Linked DNA regions of Homo sapiens. The protein of the gene in region 5 interacts with the protein of the main gene of each other region in a biochemical or structural test. Each region holds a gene or a part of one and is shown on either strand. Other genes may lie near its edges.

Region 1 (3,500 bases), on a different chromosome or scaffold from region 5:
CTTCTCCTTGGTTCCATCCCTCAACCCTACTCCCACGTCTAGGGCAGAATAGTCCTTTCAGCCCTCTCCTCCCTGACTCCCTATTCTCACCACCTAGCAGACCCTTTCCCTCACCGCAGTCTCTGCGCGGCCGATTATGCTTGATGTCTAGTCGCTCTTCCGTAGGCCCCCGAAGCACCTTGGTCCAGTTCAAAGAGTGGTGGTAGCAGAGCTGCCTATTGGCACTTATATAGATACGCCCAGCACTAATTTCCTTCAGGGATCGGAAGCCCAGAGATGTGACATTCAAGTTCTTCATGATCAACAATGAGAAGCCCCGGCTGAGAATAAGGAGACAGGATGAGAGGAGAGACTACTAAGGGAACATTAACTATTCAAAGGATTCATGTTAGTCAAGAAATTTGCTCAGTGCTAGTCAGATCCACTGAGAGGGAATCCCCCTCCTTTTGCCTTTTCCTCGTGAAACTCTGAAACCCTTTGGTTTTGAGGCACTGCTGTATGAGACAGTGCCTTGTATTTTACTAAAGAATGCCTATGACACAGGCTTCATTGCCTGAAGATGCCATTTCCTCCATACCCTTTACTCACTTGTAGAGGCTTCTGCCTCCAATGGTTGTCAAATTGGAAAAAACACTGAAGTTGTGCATGTGGGGCGGCCAGGACTGGATGTTCAGGTAACCTGAGGGGTTGGAGAGAGGCATATGGGCAGGGAGCCTTCTTCTTTCTTGGGTTCTCCTGGCTCCTCCCCTATAACTTGGGACGTGATTTTCTCAAGTAGTTATACCGCAATTTATGCCAGTGGTTCACCTATTCTTCTAGAAAGGGCAAACTCTCTGCCACTCACCTGTGATCTCCCGTACTGTCCGGAAGACATTGAGCTTCTCTGGGTCCAGGGCAGGGATCTTGTGCCAGGGGTCTCTGAATAGAACAGTAGAAACCAGTCAATAAGGTAAAGGTATAACTCAATGGCAATGAGCACACCCAGCCTCAGCATTTGGTTTCTAAATATCATTCTCCACTAAAAGGAAACATTCCTTGGAGAAATGGCTGGGATGGGGGAAATATAATATAAGCCCAGAGCATCTTGTGCAAACAAGACAAGACTCAAAGAATTAAGGGTACAGCCCAAAGAACACAGGAGCCAACTTGGAGGGGCTGGCTAAAATAAATAATGATTGTAAAGGATTATAACCATTGACTAGAATAAAATAAGTATCCATAAGAGTAAATAGGAAAGGAAGACCTTTTTTTTTTTTTTTTTTTTTTTTTTTTTTTGAGACAGAGTCTTGCTCTATCGCCCAGGCTGGAGTACAGTGGCAGCAATCTCAGCTCACTGCAACCTCCACCTCCTGGGTTCAAGTGATTCTCCTGCCTCAGCTTCCTAAGTAGCTGGGAATACAGGAGCACACCACCATGCCTGGCTAATTTTTTGTATTTTTAGTAGAGACAGGGTTTCACCATGCTGGCCAGGCTGGTCTTGAACTCCTGACCTTGTGATCCGCCCGCCTCGGCCTCCCAAAGTGCTGGAATTACAGGCATGAGCCACTGCACCTGGCCTTTTTTTTTTTTTTTTTTTAAGAGACAGGGTCTCACTCTGTTGTGCAGAGTGAGTGCACTGGCTGGAGAGCAGTAGTGCCATCATAGCTCACTGTAACCTTGAACTCCTGGGCCCAAGCAATTTTCCCACTGGCTCCCAAAGGGCTGAGATTACAGGCATAAGCCACTGTGCTCAGCTGGAAAGACTCTTCCTAACAGTAGAATGCCAACAAACAAATGCAGAAGGAATAATGGAATTAGAAAATTATCATTTGGCAACTATCATAACAATAATTGATTCAGGCAATTATCCCAAGACATTCATTAATTGTGAATGGAAAAATAGTAACTTTACAGTAGAAAAACCTGACAGATATCACCTTAACTAAGTGACCAGAGACATCATTGTGAGTGCTGGGACAAATCAACATCACGTACATCCTCAATAGGATGCCCTGAGCTCACAGCCTCTGTGGTGTTCTTATCAAACTCCAGCCTGGCAGCGGCGCATGCCTATAATCCCAGCACTTTGGGAGGCTGAGACAGGAGGATCACTTGAGCTCATGAGTTCGAGACCATCCTGGACAACATGGTGCAACCCTGTCTCTATAGAGAATGGCTTGAACCTGAGAGGTGGAGGTTGCGTGAGCTGAGATCACGCCACTGCACTCCAGCCTGGGCAACAAGAGCGAGACTCCGTCTCAAAAAAAAAAAAAAATATATATATATATACACACACATATATAAATATATAAATAGTATATAATATTTATGTTTATATATATTTATATATATTATTTATATATATATATTTATATTTATATATATTATTTATATATATATATATATATATATATATATAAAATTAGCCAAGCATGGTGGCATGCACCTGTAATCCCAGCTACTCAGGGGGCTGAGGTGCTCGCTTGAGCACGGGAGGCAGAGGTTGCAGTGAGCTGAGATCATGCCACTGTATTCCAGCCTGGGCAATAGAGCCAGACCTTGTCTCAAAAAAAAACTACAAAAACTTGAATCTAATCATGAGGACACATCAAACTAATCCAAACTGAAGAACATGCTGCCCATTACCTAATCTATACTCATCAAGAATATCATGAAAGATAAACAAAACCTGAGGAGCTGTTATAAAGGAGATTGAAGTGCCACGATAACTGAATGTAATGTATGATCCCAAACCTTAGGAGGACAATTAGTGAAATCTGAATAAGGTCTGTAGCTTAGATAATATTTTGTGTTAATGTTAATTTTCCGATTCAAACAACTATGCTGTGGTTATGTAAGAAAATATTATTTTTAAGGAATATACGCTGAAATATAACAGGGGTAAGAAAGAACCATGTGTGAAAATTTACCCTCACGTGGTCCAGAAAAACAATAGCATGTGTTTTGTGTGTGTGTGTGTGTGTGTAGAGAGAGACAGAGAGAGAGAGAAGTGATAAAGCGTATGTGGTATTTTTTTTGGCGGGGGACAGAGTCTCGCTCTTTCACCAGGCTGGAGTGCAGTGCCGCGATCTCGGCTCACTGCAACCTCTGCCTGCCAGGTTCAAGCTATTCTCCTGCCTCAGCCTCCTGAGTAACTGGGACTACAGGCGCACACCACCACGCCCAGCTAATTTTTGTATTTTTAGTAGAGATGAGGTTTCACCATGTTGGCCAGGATGGTCTCAATCTCTTGACCTCGTGATCCACACCTAGTGATCCACCTGCCTCAGCCTCCCAAAGTGCTGGGATTATAGGCATGAGCCACTGTGCCCGGCCATATGTGGTATGTTAACATTTGGAGGATCTGGGTAAAAGAGTGTATGGGGGGCCAGACGCGGTGGCTCACACTTGTAATCCCAACACTTTGGGAAGCTGGGGCGGGTGGATCACTTGAGGTCAGGAGTTCGAGACCAGCCTGGCCTACATGGTGAAACCCTGTCTCTACTAAAAATACAAAAATT
Region 2 (3,500 bases), on a different chromosome or scaffold from region 5:
ACTGGTATTCTATAAGTGGGCATTTGTGGCTTGGGATAAGTTTCCAGAAACAGCATCATATGTGGAGACAAAGAGTTCTGAAGCACAAATAGCTTATGGGTGAAGATGACGAGTACTGGGAATTATCAAATGACTCAAAAGAGGGCTTTTGTGATGTCATCAATATGAGAAGATGCATGTGAAGAGTTTGCATAGACATATTTCATGAAATGTGAGACTGGGAAAAGCAACAAAATATGTGATCCTAAACAAGCAAGTCAGGCCTGGTACACCTGCTGGACCCCTAAAATGTAAAAGGCCCGTCCCTGGCACTCCCATTATCTGATCTTGTGATAGAAACACTTTTTGCACATGGTGGAGAGCTCTTGGAGTGCCAGGAAATCCCTCTTTCAGCAATGTGTCAACACTGAGGACTGGGCAGAAGCATAAGTAGAAAGTTACTGCTGCAGCTCAGCTTTCTTAACCTTGTCCACAAGAGTCCCTTTATAAATGTATTAGAGATGTTAATAACAAAACTACAATATGTGTGTCTTTTCACCAAACTTGATGCCAAAGTAAAAACTCAGTTCCAAGAAATTATTAAAAGGGTCACTTGATTTCTGGCCAAGTAAATCTGCCAAGACAAAATGGAGTCATCTTATTGCTTGAGAGTCCTGCTAAACAGCTTTGATCTTGTAATCATTTTGTTTTTTTTGTGTGTGATGAATGGCTCTAGGTGCCTTCATTTTGGCATTAAGCTAGGAAATGATTATATGCTCATTATTGGAACAATCTGAGGTCTGGATGGGGTATATGGAGAGAGAGAATATGTGTAGTCTCAGTCTCAGAAGAATTTTGATCTTTGTAACCAGAGAAGATAAACAGGCAAATAAATAGAGGAGGTTTGAAGGTATTTGTCTATGGAATTTGGCCAGTGTAAAAGTTGGCTTCCTTTGTAAGAAGACTATGTTGGCAAGTTCCATCTTGTTTCCCGCAAGAATTTTTGTGATGGGAGTGATAATGGTTTCAGGTGTGGCTAGTGCATTTTGGGAATTTTTCCTGGGCGATAAAACTGACCTGAATTTCATTGGCTAATCCTGTCTGTTTGTCTCCCTTGGAACACTAAAAAAGTCAAAAGGGTAGGATAAAATTCAGATGTGTTTTGAGAATTTCTAGAATTGATAAGTATTTTTACATCTAAGGATTGAAATGTACAAAATTTAAAAAATGAGATATCAATATACCTTTATGAATTCTCTTTTTAATTTTTTTCTTGCCCTACCCTTCTTTTTAATTTTTAACAAAGAAAGATTTAAATAGCAAATCCATGTGCTCTAGGAGCCCTGGAGGAATTCCTAATAGACTCTTTTAAAACTTGTGTCTCAGAATCAACTTACTGGATGCAGAAAAATATCTTCTCTGTAATGCTATTAATATTATATTTTTATTTCCTAATCCCAGGTTTCTGAAAATCATTTTGTTTCCTTTCATTCTTTTGTAGTTTCTAGTAAAGAAAAGGGGGAGCTTCATAAGGAATTCTATTGCTTCTTTGCAACATATATTAAATGTATGTAGGGGGAAATAAGTCTTAGTTGGAATGTATGTGCATTTATGTTATGTATATTCATAGACTTTGGAAGAGAGAGGAAGGAAGTTTTGTTTTTAGTTCACCAAAAGATGAACTGACTTTCTTGGAAGTATTTTCCTAGCATCATAAAAAGTTAACTATAGTTTCCATCTAGAGAAGTGTCCCAGACATTTCAGCAAAAGTCAACCAAATGTCTCTGAATTCATATGCCTTTACCCCTCAGCAAATTATATACTTTATGCTACTGAGGACATGTTTAATGTTCTACCTGATTGCAATTATAACCTTTATATCTTAGATTGAAACCTGTTAAAGTAAGTGAAACATACCATGCCAAAGTCAAACTGTCTTTAGAAAAGCTATACTATTTGTTCATTCAATGATGGTCATAGTCAGGTCCGTATTCCAAATCTGGCCCAGATCAAGAAACTCAAAGCCACAATAAACACTCAGACCAGGTGATCAACTGACTAGCAGGATAAATCTCCAGGTATAGCTGGTAGCTGTTACTATATTTAAATCACAGCACCAAGAATATCTCTAACAGCTCCTAAGAAAATACCATTTCATATAAGTATAAATAATCATCAACCAAAATATTTATGCTTATAAATAACAAATACCAACCAGGTAAAGTGCCAAGCTAGAACTTGGTAGACACAAGTCTTTTCCAGAAGGAAGTCCATGATTAAAGTCAAGCTCTAAAGGAAGGACTTGGGAACAAACATTTCCTCTCTACTCTTACAGGTTATTTAGAGAAGTATACGAGCTCATTTAAAAATGTTTTATTTACCAGCATTTCAGAAGAGGTTTTTTAAAGTTAAGTTCCTTTAAGTAATGTCAAGAATATAGATTAATCAGTTGTGTATCAGTGAGAGAATATAATCTCATAAGGAACAATTCTTTAAGGCATACAAATTAGCTTGAACATCTTGTAAATGTTGCAGAGATTATATAGAAATGTCAATAATTATGTTTTATGGGAATTGCTGCTGTGATAAAAATCTGTGTAAATCTGATAAAATCTGTGTAAATCTGATAAAATCTGTGTAAATATAAAAAAGCTTATATGGGAAATAACTTTAATATAATCTGAAATGTCACGAACATGCAAATCTGAATTGTAAAAACATTTTTCTTTTAGTTACCATTTACATTTTAAAGATATAATTTTAGGTGTAAATGAAGATTCAATTCCTCAATTTTCTTGGAAAAAATCTGCAACTATTTTGGATAAACACCATTTACAAAGCACAAAAGAAGCCCTGGATATTCTTTTTGAGACTGATACTTATTTCTAATTTATACCTCACAGTTTATAAGTGGGGAACTGATGTGACTTACCCTATTAAAGCAGTGCTCATGATTGGGTCCGTAAAAATGCTGGAGACATCTCACATTGTTTTTGTTGACGATCTTGTTGAAGAAGTCGTTGACATATTTGATAGGGAATGCACACATGGCAGATCGATCCATTGGTTCGGCAGAATCTGGCTTGCTTTGTGCGAACACCCCGAAAAGAATGTCATCATTCAGGCTGGCTCCTATTTGTCTAGCAAGCTGGGCCCCAGGCTTGCTGACATACGCAGCCTGAAGTATATTAAACACTTCCTTCTTTGTGGATCTCTTTTTTCTCTTTTCTGTGAGAATACACTCCAGAGGCATTTCCATGTAGGAATGCAATCCAGAGTTTATGGAACAGAACCTGATTATTCTTGTGTGAAAAGTCTGAGCATCTAGAGTTTCCCTTTGGACCGTCAAGAAGTAAATAAAATTGTTGCTTTCAAAGGCATGGACATACTTAATGGGGTAAGAATCTCTGAACTCAGGTAAAACATCAATGTAGGACTGGTCCGTCAAAAACATAAAACCATCTTTCGTTTCCTTTAGCCTTCTCACTGATATCGAATGCAATGGATGATCTGGGAAATAA
Region 3 (3,500 bases), on a different chromosome or scaffold from region 5:
GCAGCCATGGGGTCCTTCCTGTCCTCCTAGCAGGAGAGGGTGGAGGGGCTTACGTCTAAGATTTCTTTGTTGGCTTTGGGGGATGTGTTTTCCCTCAACACTTTGATGGCCACTGGAATTTTCACATTCTCCCCATCAGGGATCCAGATGCCCTGGGCAGAAAGAGGAGGATATGAGTGAGAAGAGCGTGGGCTGGATCCTACCTGCCTTCCAGGAGATCATTACTTGTCCTCCAAACATCCTTCACCACCCTAGGGCTTGGCCCCGCTCCCTTCTCCGCTGTAACTGCCCTCCCCCAAACACTGCCTCCAGCTCTTGCCCCTCCCATCAGAACTGCCGACCACACCCCTCCAGGCACCGCCCCCATCCTCTGGGGCCGCCCACCCCAGGACCTGGCCCTGACCTTGTAGACTGTGCCAAAAGCGCCAGATCCAAGCACCTTCACCTTCCTCAGCTCCGTCTCTTTCAGGATCCGCATCTGCGCCTGGTTGGGCATCGCTCCGCTAGGTGTCAGCGGCTCCACCAGCTGGGGTGAGGGGGTGGTGGGTCAGTGCCGGGGGCCGGTGCAGACCCCACGCGGGCTGGGAGGACTTCACCCCGCCTCACCTCCGTTTCCTGCAGCAGTCTCCGCATCGTGTACTTCCGGATCTTCTGCTGCCGTCGCTTGATGAGGATCCCAAAGACCACCCCCAAGACCACGACCAGCAGAATGCCAACCACCGCAGAGATGATGGACGTCAGAGGGCTGGGGGCGGAAGCCAGGGTCAGGGATTGAGGGCTAGTTTGGGGTGGGAGGGACAAAGGGGGCCCACGGGGGACATGAAGGTGTTTGGCATTCGGAAAGGGAAGTCGGAAGGGTGACCCACAGGCTTGGACCCTCTCCTACTCTAAAACCTGCCTTGGCTCCCCGCTGCCTCCACAATAAAGTCCAAACTCCTTGTAGGCAATCAGAACCCTCTCCGCATCTCCAGATTCTCTATACTCTTGCCCTTGGCTCTGGCTTAGGGCTTCAACAATTCATGGTGTAAAAATCACTAAGGACTCTGGGCGCGGTGGCTCATGCCTGGAATCCTAGCACTTTGAGAGTCTGAGGTGGGCAGATCACAAGGTCAGGAGTTCGAGACCAGCCTGGCCAACATAGTGAAACCCCCGTCTCTACTAAAAATACACACACACAAAAATTAGCTGGGCGTGGTGTGGGTGCCTGTAATCCCAGCTACTTGGGAGACTGAGGCAGGAGAATCGCTTGAACCCGGGAGACAAGAGGTTGCAGTGAGCTGAGATTGTGCCACTGCACTACGGCCAGTGCAAGACTCCATCTCAAAAAAAAAAAAGTCACTAAGGAGACTGTTAATACACATGCCCCTCAACACCAAGGGGCTACGTCCTGATAAACCAATTCTAAGTTGAAACTGAAAATGCATTTAAGACACCTAGCCTGGCTTACACGTGCTCAGAACATTTACACTGCCAGCAGCTTACAGTTGGGCAGAATCATCTGACACAAAGCCTATTTTATAGTAAACTGTTAAATAAGTTTGTGTTATTTATTTATTTATTTTTGAGACAGGGCCTTGCTGTGTTGCCCAGGCTGAGTGCAGTGGTGAGATCATGGCCCACTGCAGCCCTGACCTCTGGGCTCAAGCAGTCTTTCCACCTCAGCTGCCCAAGTAGCTGGGACTACAGACACACGCCACCACACTCAGCTAGTTTTTTTATTTTTTGTAGAAATGGGGTCTCACTATGTTGCCCAGGCTGGTCTCGAGCTTCTGGCCTCAAAGGATCCTCCCACCTTGGCCTCCTAAAGTGCTGGGATTACAGGTGTGAGCCACGGTGCCTGGCTATGTAATTTATTGAATACTGAAAGTAGGGCTGGGCATGGTGGCTTGAGGCTGAGATGGGCAGATCACCTGAGCTCTCGAGTTCGAGACCAGCCTGACTAACATGGAGAAACCCCGTCTCTACTAAAAATACAAAATTAGCCGGGTGTGGTGGTGCCTGCCTGTAATCCCAGCCACTCTGGAGGCTGAAGCAGGAGAATCGTTTGAACCTGAGAGGTGGAGGTTGCGGTGAGCCAAGACTGCGCCATTGCACTCCAGCCTGGGTAACAACAGCAAAATGACATCTCAAAATAAATAATAAATAAATAAATAAATAAAAATAAAAGTGAAAAACAGAATGGCTGTATGGGTATTCAAAGTACGGTTTATACTGAATGTATATTATTGCTTTTCCACCATTGTAAAGTCAAAAAATCCTAAGTAATATCACAAATCAGCACACAGTCTGTATGCATACAATTTTGGGGCCCCACCCCCAGAGATTCTGACTGCTGCATGGGTACAGGAATGTACACCTGATGATTTTGATGTTCTAGCCAAAATTTCCACCCACAGGTCATGATTTTCCACACCTCCCAGTGTTTGCATAGGCTGTCCCTTCAGCCTGGACCACCATTTCTCCACAGGGTCATCTTTTAAGACTCGGCTCCGCCAGGCACGATGGCTCACACCTGTAATCCCAGCACTTTGGGAGGCCGAGGCAGGTGGATCACCTGAGGTCAGCAGTTCAAGACCAGCCTGGCCAACATGGCAAAACCTCATCTCTACTAAAAATACAAAAATTAGCCGGACGTGGTAGCGCATGCCTGTAATCCCAGCTACTGGGGGGCTGAGACAGGAGGATTGCTTGAACTGCTTGAACCTGGGAGGCAGAGGTTGCAGTGAGCCAAGATCGTGTCATTGCACTCCAGCCTGGGCAACAGAGCAAGACTCCATATCAAAAAAAAAAAAAAAAAAAAAAGACTTGGCTCATCGCCAGGAGTGGTGGCTCACTCCTGTGATCCCAACATTTTGGGAGGCCAAAACTGGAGGATCACTTGAGCCCACGAGTTTGAGACCAGCTCGGGCAACATAGTGAGACCCTGTCTATACAAAAAAAATTTTTTAAATTACCCAGGCGTGGTGGCACGCTCCTATAGTCCCAGCTACTGCAGAAGGGTAACTTGAGCCCAGGAGGTCAAGGCTGCAGTGAGCCTGTGATTACACCACCACATTCAAGACTGGACAAGAGAGCAAGACCCTGTCTCAATCACTCAATAAAAAGATAGCGTATCTGGCTGGGCACGGTGGCTCATGTCTGTAATCCCAGCACTTTGGGAGGCCAAGGTGGGCGGATCTTGAGGTCAAGAGATCGAGACCATCCTGGCCAACATGGTGAAACCCCGTCTCTACTAAAAATACAAAAATTAGCTGGGTGTGGTGGCATGTGCCTGTAATCCCAGCTACTTGGGAGGCTGAGGCACAAGAAGCGCTTGAACCCAGGAGGCAGAGGTTGCAGTGAACCGAGATGGAGCCACTGCACTCCAGCCTGCAGGCAGAGTGAGACTCCGTCTCAAAAAAATAAAAAAAAGATAGTGCATCCTGGGATAGATGGAGCTCCCGGGTGTTGATCCAATATTCTTGTCACCCTCTCCTCTCCATACCCCCTTGCTTAGCACA
Region 4 (3,500 bases), on a different chromosome or scaffold from region 5:
CCCTTTCCCTTTCCCTTTCAGTAGATGTTATGAATGGTTTGAGAGGATTTGTGAGTGTGATCATCCTTACAATAGGATTGCGGTTTAGCGGTAATGGTACACATGCAATGCCAGTACGTGGAACCTTAGTTTACCTCGAAAGGTTTGAACTAGAAGTTTGTTGACGGTGGAATAGGTTTTAGTCTCATCTTTCTGGTTAAGGGAAGTTTGAATTCTCACTTCTGGGATGTTGAGAAGCAATCTTTCAAAATTTGAATACTTTTGTTACAGGTTTCAGAGTTTATTTCCATGTTTGTTATTTGGAAAAAAAAAAAAGACTGTTAAAAATGAGGGATATTTCAACCAGTCAATGAATAGACACAGAGCGAAATTCAGTGCAAAGATAGTGAAGATGGCCTGGCGCCGTGGCTCACGCCTGAATCCCAGCACTTTGGGAGGCTGAGGCAGATCACGAGGTCAGGAGGTTGAGACCATCCTGGCTAACACGGTGAAACCCCGTCTCTACTAGAAATACAAAAAATTAGCTGGGCGCGGTGGCTCACACCTGTAATCTCAGCACTTTGGGAGGCTGAGGTGGGGCGGATCACGAGGTCAGGAGATTGAGACCATCCTGACTAACACAGTGAAACCTCGTCTCTAGTAGAAATACAAAAAATTAGCTGGGTGTGGTGGCGGGCGCCTGTAGTCCCAGCTACTGGGTAGGCTGAGGCAGGAGAATGGCTTGAACCTGGGAGGTGGAGCTTGCAGTGAACCGAGATTGTGCCACTGCACTTCAGCCTGGGCAACAGAGTGAGACTCTGTCTCAAAAAAAAAAAAAAAAAAAAAAAGGATACTGAAGATACTACATTTAGAACTTTGGGGTCCACGATTCTATTTGGGGGTGAATAGGGCATTAGATTTACAGTTAGGAGACCTAGATTCTAGACAGATTTCTCATTAACTACATGTTACGGAACAAGTTATTTAACCTTTTTGGGTCTCAGTTTCTTTATATATCAAATGAGATTTCAGCTCCATTATAATACTCTTTGATCCTCCTTCTCACAGGATATATCAATTTAGCTACCTACTTATTTCAAATTACTGTTGGGCACTTGGGCTTAGTGGTATTCTTAATCCTGATATTCAGAAAATTGTGTTGGAGTGTAGCACATGTGTTTGATTTATGCCAAGCATTAATTTTGTGTATTGATTACATTTATGACTTTATTTCTTCATGTGGGATTGTTTTTGAAAACTGTTGGGTAATATGTTGAACTGCTTTGGCAACCTGGTCTAAACAGTAGAAGAATATTTGAGCCTTTGTATTTAAAATAATAACATTTTAACGAATGTTTTTGTGGTATTTTAGTAGGAAAATAGTTTTTAAATGGTTTCAGTAGGTTTAGGGGCATAATATATCCAGAATCAAGTGATCTTTTGTTAAAGAGCATTATCTTGTAGTCATTGGAGTTCACTGGCAAATCAAACACTTTAGAAACATTTTGATTGAAAAATCAAGCAGGATTTGCAAAAACTTTGTTCTTATCTGGTACACAAATGAATCCCAGACACATTGTTTAGGCCACTTTGGGTAAAAGAATGGAATTCAGGGTTCTACAATGCTCTTCAAGAAAATTAAATTTTATTGTAATGTCAACCAATTAGTTGAAATACAAGTGCCTAAACTTTTTTGTGCTTTTATGCATTGAAATACTCTCAGATATCCTGGTGTTTTTATATCTTTTGGAGCATGACTGCATATTGTGAAGTAAGAAAAACTCTAATTCCAAACAGAGAGGAACAAAGAGACTTTCCTTGATAGCATGTGGAAATATGAGGTTGTTTTTAAAATTGTAGCTTGTGGGATGTAAGGGTGACTTGTGTTTTGGCATTCAGATGGTGCAACTGTGAGTGAAATAGTTGTGGTAATAGCTGTTGATGATGTTGGTTGATGAATTACAGGTGTCTCAATTGATTCAAAATAGTTAAGTCTCTCAAGAAAGATTAAGAAAATTGTTAAGACTGTTGACTTTGTCAATTTGTACCAGCTAAGAACCTCACTTATGTGAGGCAGGCAAAACTTTTGTTTCAAAAACCATATAACACAGTTGCTGTGATAAGATGGAATAAGTGGTCAGTTTTTAGCTCCCTTTGCATTTACATTTTCCTTAGGGTCTGCCTCAAGTTTAGGAAGATACAGTTAAGGCAGTTCTTTGAGATGAATTATTGGAAGGTGTAGGATGGGTTAGAACAAATGCTGTTGCAAAACTTGAATTGCAATTATACTTTAAGAAGAATCACATTCTGCCAAATAGAGGTTTTTGTCATTGATTTTGTGATTTGATCACATTTGTGTTGCCTTTTAGAACAACTTTCTTTTTTCAAATCCATTTTTTTTTCCTTTTAATCTTCTTGGCCCACCCAACTGACTTTAGACATGAAATCTTTCATATGCTTTATTTCTATCTCCATTTTTACAGTAGTTGTGATTTATCAAACTAGGATTTTTAACTTCAAGTCCATCTGTCAGAGTTTAAAACCTCTAGTCTTGCAGTTACAAAAGTCCTTTCTGAATGTTGGGTTTTTCTTTCTCTTCCACACATTTTCATTTTCTCGGTTCAGTCACAATGTCAGGTTCTAGTGTGGAAAATTGGGTGAAAGAAAGGTTTTGGAGGCTGTGTTATTTATGAAATATTTCCTCATGGATTAAGAAAGAAAAAAAGACAAAACGACAAATAGTGTTTCAATATCACCTCAGTGATCCAGTTAACTAGACTGGCTGTTTTGTACAACATCGTGGGCACTGGTTAACAGTTAAAATAGCTGAATTGTGCGTTTTATTCAGTGGTTCAAAAAAGCCTCAAATGGATGAAATAACTTGATATCTTCGCCATGCTCTGATTTGCTGGGTAAGACAGCTAACTTTTAGGATGCTTATTTGGATCAATTTTTTATAATTTCAAAACCATTTTAGAGGCTAATTTTTTTTTAAACAAGGAATATACAATTTTTTTTTTTTGTCACTGAACAAGTTTTAAATTACTGGTTTGTTATTTTGTAAGTGAATTTGTAAGTGAAAGCCTCCAACTTAAATTAGCTTCTTGTCCAGGGAACTCATTCTGACTGACTAAAGTCCCTAAGGCCTTTCTAGTTAAAGGAAAGCCATGGAGCTATGTTTAAAAAACAAAAGCACATAGCTATGGGGCTTGGGCATATCTTCTTTTTAAAATGTCACTATTACTGTTTTGTCTCCAGATGCAATTTAATCCATTTAGATATTTAAACCAAGTGGAATGTTGTTTCCACATTTCTGGACTAATGGGGGAAAAAACACCCTCATATTGTTTTAAAACAAGGCTTAAATAATGTATAATCAGCGCGTCTGGTGACGCGCCCCACTCTGTAATTCCAGCTGTGTTCACCTCCACTGCAGCTGAAAGGAATTCTAATTGGCTGAGGAATGTCGGCAACATCGTTTATCACTGAGCAGGAACCTATCCTCCTGGCTGCTGGGTGAT
Region 5 (2,955 bases):
CCAAGATCCTTTAAGCCTGGGACCCCATGGGTTGGGAAAGGGTGCCCACCACTGAATACCACATGCCCTGGGGGACTGCAGTGGGGAACCCGTGGGTAATGGCAAGTGGGTCCCCTGCCCAGAATCCCCCAGGGAACGGTGTCCCCACAGTGGCCAGCAGGCAGGTGCCAGCTGGGCAGATCCTCCATGGGCCAAGATGGGGAGGCCCCCGTGTGCAGGCATGTGGCCACAGGAGGCAGGGGCTTGGGGCCGGTGGGTGCCCAAGACTCGGCCAAGGATCAGTGGGGTCCCAATTAATTGATCCCATCATGTGGGCTGCAGTGGGTTCCACAGAGTAGGAAGGTGACCACTGGGGCTGGGGCACACAGGGCATCTAGGGGGGGTGGACCTCTAAGGGAGGACCCAGGATGCCTGGCGCCTGGGGGTGTCCGAGAGCAGATCACCAAAGGTGGCCCCCGGGGAAGAGGGCACGGGGACACAGAGACACACAGGCGCCTAGAGTCCTTAGAATCCGTCTTTATCGGGCGATCATCCTTCGCAGGTCTGGGGTGTCCACGGGCCGCCCAGAGCCCCCTACGTGGGCCAGCCCCTGCTGTGGGCACCAGGAGGATGACTTGCCCGCCTGGACCCTCCTTGGGCCTGGTCAGTGCCCCCACGCCGCACTCTCCACTCTCTCGGTCCTCTGGGGCCAAGGGCCCCACCGGGTGGGGTCAGGGCTCCTGGCTTCGGGGCGAGGTGGAGCCGTCGGCGTCCTGCCCTGAGACGGAGGCTGGGGCACCTGCACTGCGTAGCTCCCGGGCCAGCTTCTCGGCCAGTTTGCGGAAGGGTGGCCGGCGGGCGGGCTCTGCCTCCCAGCAGCTGCTCATGAGGACGTGCACGGGGCCTGGACAGCCCTCGGGGGGTTCCATGCGGTACCCCTTCTCCACGGCCTCCGACACCTCTTTCAGTGACTGCGGACAGCAGGCGTGGGCAGGGGTCAGGGCCACAGCCTCTGGACCTGCCCGGAACCCAGTGCCTCCCTGGGACCCCCGCTCACCATTTTAGGGTACGGAGCCCGTCCATATGAGAAGACCTCCCAGAGCAGCACCCCAAAACTCCAGACATCCGACTTGCTGGTGAACTTCTGTGGGGCCCGAGACGGGGGTGAGGAGGGACCCCTCAGGTTTTCTGCTCCAGCCCCTGCTTCCTCCAGGAAGCCCTCCTGGGTTGACCCTCACTCTCTGGTCTTCTCCTAATTGAGTCCTCCCCCAACGCCGCCCGCAGTTGAGTCTAGCTCAGCCTTAGTGCATGAAGGAAGCCTGGTTATTCTTCCCTTCAGTCCTGAGCCCACGCCTTTTTCAGAGCTGGAGAAACTGAGGCCCAGAGGGGGGCTACGAGGAACAATTATGGGCCAAGAGCTTCCTGGGGAGGCATAGCCATTGCCCTTGGAGTTTCAGAGAGGCCAAGGGACATACCCAGGGTCATACAGCAGAGCTGGGGGGACCCCAAAGCCCCAGGGGTATGTGAAGGCAGGGCTCACCCCGTGTTTGAGAGCCTCGGGCGCCGTCCACTTGACGGGCAGCCGGCTTGAGTCTAGCCCCTTCCGCTCGGCTTTGGCCAGGCCAAAGTCGCTGACCTTGGCCACCAGGTCCTCTGAGACCAGGATGTTGCGGGCGGCCAGGTCGCGGTGCACAAGCTTCTTGCTCTCCAGGTACTCCATGCCCTCGGCCACGTGCCTGGGGGTAGTAGGGGGCAGTGGGGGCTCAGGTGCCAGGATGCCCACATTCAGGGCTCAGAAAGCTCGGGGTGCCTGGGGCCACAAGCTCACAAAGCCTCCCTGCCCCGTGCCTCAGTTTCCCCTTGATGGATCTTGGAATCTGCGCCCCGACGACCCCAGTGCCGCAGCACCCTGAGAGTCCCACTTACAGAGAAAACTGCAGGAGCTGAGCGGTGTTCACGAGGGCTCGACCCCGGGTCCGCAGAAAGTTCACCAGGTTGCCCTGTTGGGGGTGGGAGATGGCCGCGGGATGTTGGGGCTGCTCCGCTGCGTGGGCCCCCTCCCCGCCTGGGCCCCGCCCCACCTTGCTCACGTGCTCCATGACAATGTACAGCCCCTGGTGCAGGATCACGCCCAGGAGACGCACCAGGTTCTCGTGTTGCATCTTCCTGGGGGCGGTGGGGTGGGCGTGAGGGCAGGGCTGGGACCCCCCCCGTCCCACGGTCCCCAGCCCCACCCTGGGACTCACGTCATGACGGCCGTCTCGTCCAGGAAGGCCTGGGCTGTCACATCACACTTGATATTCTTCACGGCCACCTTTTGCCCCAGGTACTCACCCTGCAGGACAGCTGGGGGGTGGGGGTGGGGAACGGGGTGAGATCAGGACCCCCAACAAACAGGGACAGAGAGACAGACGGACAGGCCCGCTCACACCGGTGCCCATGTAACATTCACACAGCTGCGGGTCCCCAGACCTTGAAACACAGACCCCATGCTCCTCACCCCTGCCGCCCTTGCAAGCTCCAGACCCAAGATCAGAGAACCATCTGGCTCTGGCGCGGTGGCTCACGCCTGTAATCCCAGCACTTTGGGAGGCTGAGGCAGGCGGATCACCTGAGGTCAGGAGTTCAAGACCAGCCCGACTAACATGGAGAAACCCTGTCTCTAATGAAAATACAAAACTAGCCAGGTGTGGTGGCACATGCCTGTAATCCCAGCTACTCGGGAGGCTGAGGCAGGAGAATCACTTGAACCCGGGAGGCAGAGGTTGCAGTGAGCCAAGATTGTGCCATTGCACTCCAGCCTGGGTGACAGAGCGAAACTCCATCTCAAAAAAAACCCCACAAAAAACAAAAACAAAGAGAGAACCATCTAAGCCAGGGGTCTGTGAACCCCCACCCCCTCGGGGCCAAATCTACCTATCACCTCTTTTTGCAAGACCCTTCAGCTCAAAATGTTTTTTGCATTTTTATTTTTAA
Region 6 (3,500 bases), on a different chromosome or scaffold from region 5:
AAAGATCTCTGTGAGAATGGGGTATTAAAATGAATGCTCTAAACAGGTAGGAAAATCATACTTCTCTCTCTGATCAAAGTAGACAGCATCTAGCATAAGCCCCTATGGTCCATGGTGGAAAGGACAGGTCATCTGTTTTAAGAATAGTTTAAATACACTGTTTTTCCTTTTCCAGCAGTGTTTGCAAAAAATTTTCATGTCAAAGCAGTAATGAAGACTTCCGTGTTGCTGTCTTGGGAGATTCCAGAGAATTATAACTCCGCCATGCCTTTCAAAGTAAGTTGTTTTCTAATTTGTAAGAAATCACAGATAAAAGTAGAGGGGACAGTTTATCTGGGTAAGTTATTTGCACAGCAAGCAGACCACTTTGTTTTGGCCACGTGTCCTTGCTATTTTCATTTGTGACTTTCACATGGGAGACAGTTTGGTGCTTTGTAAGTGTGTCCTTTACACTCTGAAGAAGGAGCAGGAGCTTAAATCCAGGGCTGGCATCACTTGTAGGTTACCTACTACTTTGAACTTGAACTTTTTACATCTAAGCTAGTGCTTTTGTTTTTCAGCCAGAGAATGAAATTTACATGGTTTCTACCTATTTATATTATAATACCCTGGGAGTTTCTGAATTTGTTTGTTGGCCTGTATTCTTGGCACATTTTAAACTCTGGCTTGCCATTAAGAGATGTTAGCAAGTACATATTTATGAAATAAGAAATAGAGAAACATTTTTGAAAGTAAAAGTATATTTAGAAAGAGGAACCAAAACCTTTAGAAAATAGGCAATATTCATAATACGTTGAAACGTAGAGCTTTTCTGCACATATTCCATTAAGATCACATACAACTGACAGGTCTAATATTGATAAGTTATTTTCTATATATATATATGTATATATCTATCTTTGTGTATTTTTGATAGACTTGGAAACATTTTATCATTACACAGTAGGAAATGACAGGAAAATTGATGTGATCTCCAGAATTATGACTACTCATGGACTTAGAAATCACCTAAAATTAGAATTGACTATATATACATTTTCCAAAAGCTAGTGCACATTGGTTTAGAAAATATATTTTGCCTCTCTGATAACCAGATTTTTTTTTTATTGGTTTTATCTCTTTAGATTCTTTATGATGATGGGAAAATGGTAGAAGAAGTGGATGGCCGAGCCACACAGAAGTTAATTGTCAACCTGAAGCCTGAGAAATCATATTCATTTGTGCTGACAAATCGTGGAAACAGTGCTGGTGGGCTGCAGCACAGGGTCACGGCAAAGACTGCACCAGATGTATTACGTACCAAGCCTGCCTTCATTGGGAAGACCAACTTGGATGGCATGATTACTGTGCAACTGCCTGAAGTACCTGCAAATGAGAATATAAAGTAAGTTGATTGAAGGCTTAGGGCTGAAGGAAAGAATTATAGGTAAATAGGAACATTATATCTCAAAATTATAGAGGTCGTAAAAGAAGATACTGCTTAATGTAGTGAAAGATTCTTCTGCTCAGACTCCCAGTTTTGCTATCCGAGTTCTTTTACAACGTGTCCTAGTATTCATTGTAACACAGATTTTCATTAATTTAACAGTGAGTTTTTAATCTGTATTGCAGGGACAGTGTTATTTAGGAGAAACAGAAAAACATATAGAACATGGTTCTTACTACAAAGCTTTTTGTTTGTTTGTTTGTTTGTTTGTTTTTGTTTTTGTTTTTGTTTTTGTTTTGAGACGGAGTCTCGCCCTGTCACCCAGGCTGGAGTGCAGTGGCGCGATCTCGGCTCACTGCAACCTCCACCTCCCGGGTTCAAGAGATTCCCTTGCCTCAGCGTCACAAGTAGCTGGGATTGCCTCAGCCTCCTGAGTAGCTGGGATTACAGGCACCTGTCGCCATGTCTGGCTAATTTTTTGTATTTTTAGTAGAGACCGGGTTTCACCGTGTTAGCCTGGATGGTCTCAATCTCCTGACCTTGTGATCCACCTACCTCAGCCTCCCAAAGTGCTAGGATTATAGGCATGAGCCACCGCGCCCGGCTACTACAAAGCATTTTATGTCATAGTTTATGGAATAAGGTGAATAGGTGATTAACTCTAATATTTGGCAAAATATTTTTGTAATTATGAAGAAGTCTTACAAAGTACTAAAAGGTTGAAAAAAAGGGGGGGAAATTAGATAATGGTATATGACACTGATGTATTAAAAGTAGGAAAAATTCCAAAAAGTTAAAGTTAAAAATGACATTGGAAAAAATATAAACATTAGAAAATTCAAGTTTTCTGGTTTGAATGTAGCACAGCATAGAGGCCAACAGGCCTGAAGTGGAAAATTAAATCCAGTCAATTAAATAAGTTTGTCCAAGGACATATAGCTAGTTGGTTGAATAACTAATAGAAGAAAAAAGTATTTTCACCAAAATATATGAACTACAAGTACTGTGGTAGACTCCGGGGAATAAAAAAAGATGGATTCCTGACTTCAAAGACCTTACCATAGAGTGAGAGAGATACAGAGAAACAGACAGATGTAGTAAGCGTTAATGATAGAATTATGCTTTATCTTAAGAGCAGCTAATTCAGAATGGGTCAATAAAGTTTCTGAACTTAAATCTTAAGGGATAAATAGGAGGCATACAAATAATAAAAGAGAGACTATATGCAAAGGGAGTGGTAAGTGCATAGGCCCATTACTAAAGGCACCCAGTGGTGCCATACGGCTGGATCCCAGAGCGCCTGGCCACAAGTGGCAAGAGAAGGAAGAAGGAGGCATACAAGAGCCAAGGGTATACCCAGAAGTGAAAACTATATCCTCTAGACAATGGCAACCCATTACAGCTCTTTACACAGGAGAGTGGCATGATAACATTTCAATAATACATAATAAAATTCCATTTTAGGAAATATTTGTTGAGCATCTATTGTGCTACCTGTTTGGAATAAGAATAAATCCTTTCTCATTTCTTCTATCTCACACCCTCAAGTTTAGGTGAAACTTGCTATGCCAGGTTTGAAGGTCAAGCAGAGAGGCATTTATTCATAGTTCATGCATTGTTGGAATTTGGATAGATGGGAGCGCCATAGAGATAGTGGTAGAGAAAATTATTGGGAGGTGGTCACATAGTTGACTCTAGGCAAATAACAAGATTCTAAAGGAAGATGATGATGATGGAAGTAGGATGCAGAGGTAGACATGAGTTACACTAGAGTAGTAGTACAGCATACATTATTGGTAGCTGCTTTAATGATGAGATCAAGAGAGTAAAATATGGCTCTGAGTTCTGAGCTTGGATGACAATGAATGATGGTGTCATCCTAAAGGATAAAAAAATTCAGAAGTAAATGAGTTTAACGTTGTGTGTATTAATATGAAATATCAGTGAAATACCTAGTTAGAAGTGTGGGCTTAGAGAAGTTATTAAGATTAAAGATGGCCAGGCATGGTGGCTCATGCCTGTAATCCCAGCACTTTGGGAGGCCGAGGCGGGCAGATCACAAGGTCAGGAGTTC
Region 7 (3,500 bases), on a different chromosome or scaffold from region 5:
TTCTTCTTCACTTCTGCTTACATTTTATTTTTCAGTTTATTTATATATCTATTCTGGGAGAAAGCGTGTAAGAGGAAGAGGAAAATGCAAATAAATCTATTTAATAAAGTTACTTCTTAGCAGATAGAAAAGAAGGGAAAAAGAAGTTACATTGTGATGATAAATCCATTGCGGGTTACTCACTTCACTAATGTGGAGTAGCTACAATTTCTCTGTCTTCCACTGGCTGAGATAATTAAGAGTTAGCTGATATGTTTTGACAGAGGAGCATTTAATCTTAAAACTATTGCTTACAAATGACTGGATGGGCTTGCAATTGAAACTATGTCTTCCTCTATAAAAATACATGGAAGCTTTTACATTAAATTAAATTTTCTAATATCATTAAAGCTAAAATATCTTCAGCCACATCAGTTTATTCACTATTTTTATTCATTGCTATTTCATTTAATATACAATTTATTATATCAAAAAAATATAATTCTAGGTAACTCAAAAGACCAAACTTAGCCATTGTAACAAAAAAGAAAGAAAAAAAACCTATGGAGAATTTTTAAATTATGCTGAACATGTAATCGAAAATATTAGGCAGCATGTGTTTAAATATCTAGAGAAAAGAAGGCCGCAATGGAAACTAAATCCAATAGACTGAATATACAAAGGGACAATGGCCTGACCATATGTAAAAATAGAAACAAATTGGGAAGCAAACCTCCTTATCTACAATAAACAGCCCAGCAAACCAGCCTTTTGTAAATCAGATTTGCAGGAAGTCAGATTGCTATCTCTAGTAACAACCCAGGAAGCTACACAATTACTTGTATAACAATCAGCTCCAAATGACCAGAATTGATTAATAACTGGCAGCTTTCCTAATTTTTGTCCTTGCTTCCAACTTCAGACCAACAGAAAAAAGTCAAACATGCACCTCTAACCAATGGCTTCTAGTTATCCTGCCTATAGCTTCCCCAGGCCAACAGTCTCTAATGAGGGCATAGATGAAGCCTTCCCTTTTTTTTTTTTTTTTTAACCCTACACAGCTTTCCCACTCCTCTGCGGGCCTTTAAGTCTCTGCCAAAATGTAACTGATGGAGCTGACTTTCTTGCTATAGCAGTCTCTGAATAAATACTCTTTGCTTTTTTCGTTTGGTTAATATTCATTTATTTCCACACTATTGGAGCATCTATTCCAGGTCCATTAATAGGTAACGTGCATGCATACACTAAAAAGGTAATCTTCATAATATTCCGTGAGAAAATTTTTAAATCCCCATTTTACAGATATAGAGCACGGTTTGCAGAAGTTAAATAGCTTCTCATTTTCTCCTATTTTTACATCACGCTAGAGTAAAATAGCTTTTGGTGTATTATTGCTTAAAAAGATTTGAGGCCAGGCATGGTGGCTCACACTTGTAATCTCAGCACTTTGGGAGGCCACGGTGGGTGGATTGCTTGAGCTCTGGAGTTCAAGAGTAGCCTTGGCAACATAAGGAAACCCTGTCTCTACAAAAAAATATAAAAAAAAATTAGCTGGGCAGGGTGGCATGCACCTGTGGTGCTACTCTGGAGGCAGAGATGGGAGGATCTCCTGAGCTTGGCATGTGGAGGTTGCACTGAGCCAAGATCGTGCTACTGCACTCCAGCCTGGGTGACAGAGTGAGATCCTGTCTCAAAAAAGAAAAAATTTTAAGGTAATATTAAAAGTATATCTAACAATAGTAACAGCAGCTGTAAATTAGGTAAGTGTTTTCTAGCATGACTTAAATTTGTATTCATCAACTTTCTGGACAAATATAAACATTGTATTTTGAATTGATTCATTGCTTTAAAGTTGTAATTTATCAAAATATTTGTGGAATTGAAAAAATCAAAAGCACTATAAAAAATTACTTCTGTCTTTATTTGATATTAGAACACATCAGCAGAAATAATTTGCTGGCCAAGCAGTAATTGCATCAACAAGCTTTTCATAGATAGTGGGTAGAGCACCTTATAAGAAAGTGTGATTATTTATGATATATGATATTGACAAGGAAAAAGGTAAAAATGGAAATGGTAAAAATGAAAAGTGAAATTGATGATTCTAAAAGTAGAGTAATAAAATTTGTTTACCTGGCATTATAAATACTCTGCAATTTTTTAAAGTTAATTGCCTAACACTCATATAAGATAGGCAATATAGCATTTAGAAAATGAGGAAACAAAGTCATAGAGATATTCAGAACATTACCTAAAGTTTCTTAATTAGTGCGCAGTGGAGCCTATATTTTCAAAATGCATTATTTTTTTTTTTTTTGGTTTCAAAGTCTATCACATATGCTTAAGAAATATTTGATCAAAATTCACTTTTAAGATGTTCCCTTAGCACGTTATTTAGCCACCAAACTTAAAATGGTAGTAATTTGTTTTCTAATTTAGCCAAACTTAAAATGGAAGTAATTTGTTTTCTAATTCAGCCATGTAGGAAAGAAAGGAGGAACATGGCATTTGTACATGTTAGAAATTTCCGTAAAAGTTACGTAAAGCCAGACTGAAAACTATTAGGACAATATAGATGACAAATAAAGCTTTTTAAATGCCTGAACATAAAATGATACAATGATATTTAATCACCATTTCTTTTCCAAGGACTGAAAAAGTAAAAAGAAATCTACAGGTAACATTGTTTTATAATGTGGAATAAGAAATGATGGCTAAAGGTCAAATAAGTCCACGGGTGATTTAGACTTTGTCTCAATAATTCCATCTAGCTAGCTCAAACCTTTATTAAGAATTTCTTGCACTGAGAATTATAAATTAAAATGAACAAAAAGCTGAAATGTAAGAATTCTTATAAAAAGAAAAAGATTTATAGCATTGCAAGCTAAGAAAGAAAAACTATTTTTTTTTAAATTTCACTGTTGTAACCAGAAGTAATGAATTTGTCACTTAAAATTATAAATACAAGGGTATATAATTTGATCATTTTGCAAAGTGTACAGAGAGCCTCCTTTATACACCTTAACCGCTTTCTTCCCCTCTCACAAGCAAAAGACTGATTATTCATTACCTATCCATTGATCTAATTTTTAAAACTTTTAGTTATCTATTCCCCATTGGGCATGTGATAAAGTTTTCAGTTTGTACTATAATATTTTTTAACAGAAAAGAAAAAATAATTGAGGTCTCCATCTTTGTCTCTTTCCATATCAGATCTTCTAAATGGAGGTAGATGAGTAAAAGGTGTAGAGCAGATTTGAGATGCATTTTATAAGAAAACCACCTGGGAAATTTCCCAAACAAGACAAGTCCCAGACTCTAATCACATCATGGAAATAACATGCTTCAGTAACTTTGAAGCAAACCTACAGTGTAGTAGGCAGATATCTAGATTACATTATTCCTCTCTTCCACTGACTAGCTGTGTGACACCAGTCATATCACCTGACTTCTCTGTGGCAAGTTTCTTCCTTTGAAAGAAGGGGATGATAATAATAGAACCTCATGAAGTTTGTTTAAGG

The links.
Region 1: the proteins of MATK (region 5) and ERBB3 form a complex in vitro, tested with the Homo sapiens proteins (one large-scale study listed by BioGRID).
Region 2: the proteins of MATK (region 5) and MET form a complex in vitro, tested with the Homo sapiens proteins (one large-scale study listed by BioGRID and IntAct).
Region 3: the proteins of MATK (region 5) and ERBB2 form a complex in vitro, tested with the Homo sapiens proteins (2 studies listed by BioGRID and IntAct, with this or other methods).
Region 4: of the proteins of MATK (region 5) and SMURF1, one has a biochemical effect on the other in vitro, tested with the Homo sapiens proteins (one large-scale study listed by BioGRID).
Region 6: the proteins of MATK (region 5) and PTPRD form a complex in vitro, tested with the Homo sapiens proteins (one large-scale study listed by BioGRID).
Region 7: the proteins of MATK (region 5) and ERBB4 form a complex in vitro, tested with the Homo sapiens proteins (one large-scale study listed by BioGRID).

The regions. Positions count from the first base shown.
Region 1 is NC_000012.12:56,090,165-56,093,664, reverse strand, and holds part of ERBB3 (receptor tyrosine-protein kinase erbB-3 isoform 1 precursor), read right to left. Parts: intron 919-3,500; coding exon 845-918; intron 680-844; coding exon 589-679; intron 321-588; coding exon 115-320; intron 1-114. UniProt on the Homo sapiens protein: Tyrosine-protein kinase that plays an essential role as cell surface receptor for neuregulins.
Region 2 is NC_000007.14:116,699,696-116,703,195, reverse strand, and holds part of MET (hepatocyte growth factor receptor isoform b preproprotein), read right to left. Parts: coding exon 2,912-3,500; intron 1-2,911. UniProt on the Homo sapiens protein: Receptor tyrosine kinase that transduces signals from the extracellular matrix into the cytoplasm by binding to hepatocyte growth factor/HGF ligand. Regulates many physiological processes including proliferation, scattering, morphogenesis and survival.
Region 3 is NC_000017.11:39,720,564-39,724,063, reverse strand, and holds part of ERBB2 (receptor tyrosine-protein kinase erbB-2 isoform a precursor), read right to left. Parts: intron 746-3,500; coding exon 607-745; intron 527-606; coding exon 404-526; intron 153-403; coding exon 54-152; intron 1-53. UniProt on the Homo sapiens protein: Protein tyrosine kinase that is part of several cell surface receptor complexes, but that apparently needs a coreceptor for ligand binding. Essential component of a neuregulin-receptor complex, although neuregulins do not interact with it alone.
Region 4 is NC_000007.14:99,137,609-99,141,108, reverse strand, and holds part of SMURF1 (E3 ubiquitin-protein ligase SMURF1), read left to right. Parts: intron 1-3,500. UniProt on the Homo sapiens protein: E3 ubiquitin-protein ligase that acts as a negative regulator of BMP signaling pathway. Mediates ubiquitination and degradation of SMAD1 and SMAD5, 2 receptor-regulated SMADs specific for the BMP pathway.
Region 5 is NC_000019.10:3,777,473-3,780,427, forward strand, and holds the end of MATK (megakaryocyte-associated tyrosine-protein kinase), read right to left. Parts: intron 2,326-2,955; coding exon 2,226-2,325; intron 2,146-2,225; coding exon 2,061-2,145; intron 1,980-2,060; coding exon 1,906-1,979; intron 1,716-1,905; coding exon 1,520-1,715; intron 1,124-1,519; coding exon 1,037-1,123; intron 951-1,036; coding exon 711-950; 3' UTR 501-710; downstream 1-500.
Region 6 is NC_000009.12:8,482,003-8,485,502, reverse strand, and holds part of PTPRD (receptor-type tyrosine-protein phosphatase delta isoform 1 precursor), read left to right. Parts: intron 1-175; coding exon of another isoform or gene 176-178; coding exon 179-276; intron 277-1,124; coding exon 1,125-1,384; intron 1,385-3,500.
Region 7 is NC_000002.12:211,415,803-211,419,302, forward strand, and holds part of ERBB4 (receptor tyrosine-protein kinase erbB-4 isoform JM-a/CYT-1 precursor), read right to left. Parts: intron 1-3,500. UniProt on the Homo sapiens protein: Tyrosine-protein kinase that plays an essential role as cell surface receptor for neuregulins and EGF family members and regulates development of the heart, the central nervous system and the mammary gland, gene transcription, cell proliferation, differentiation, migration and apoptosis.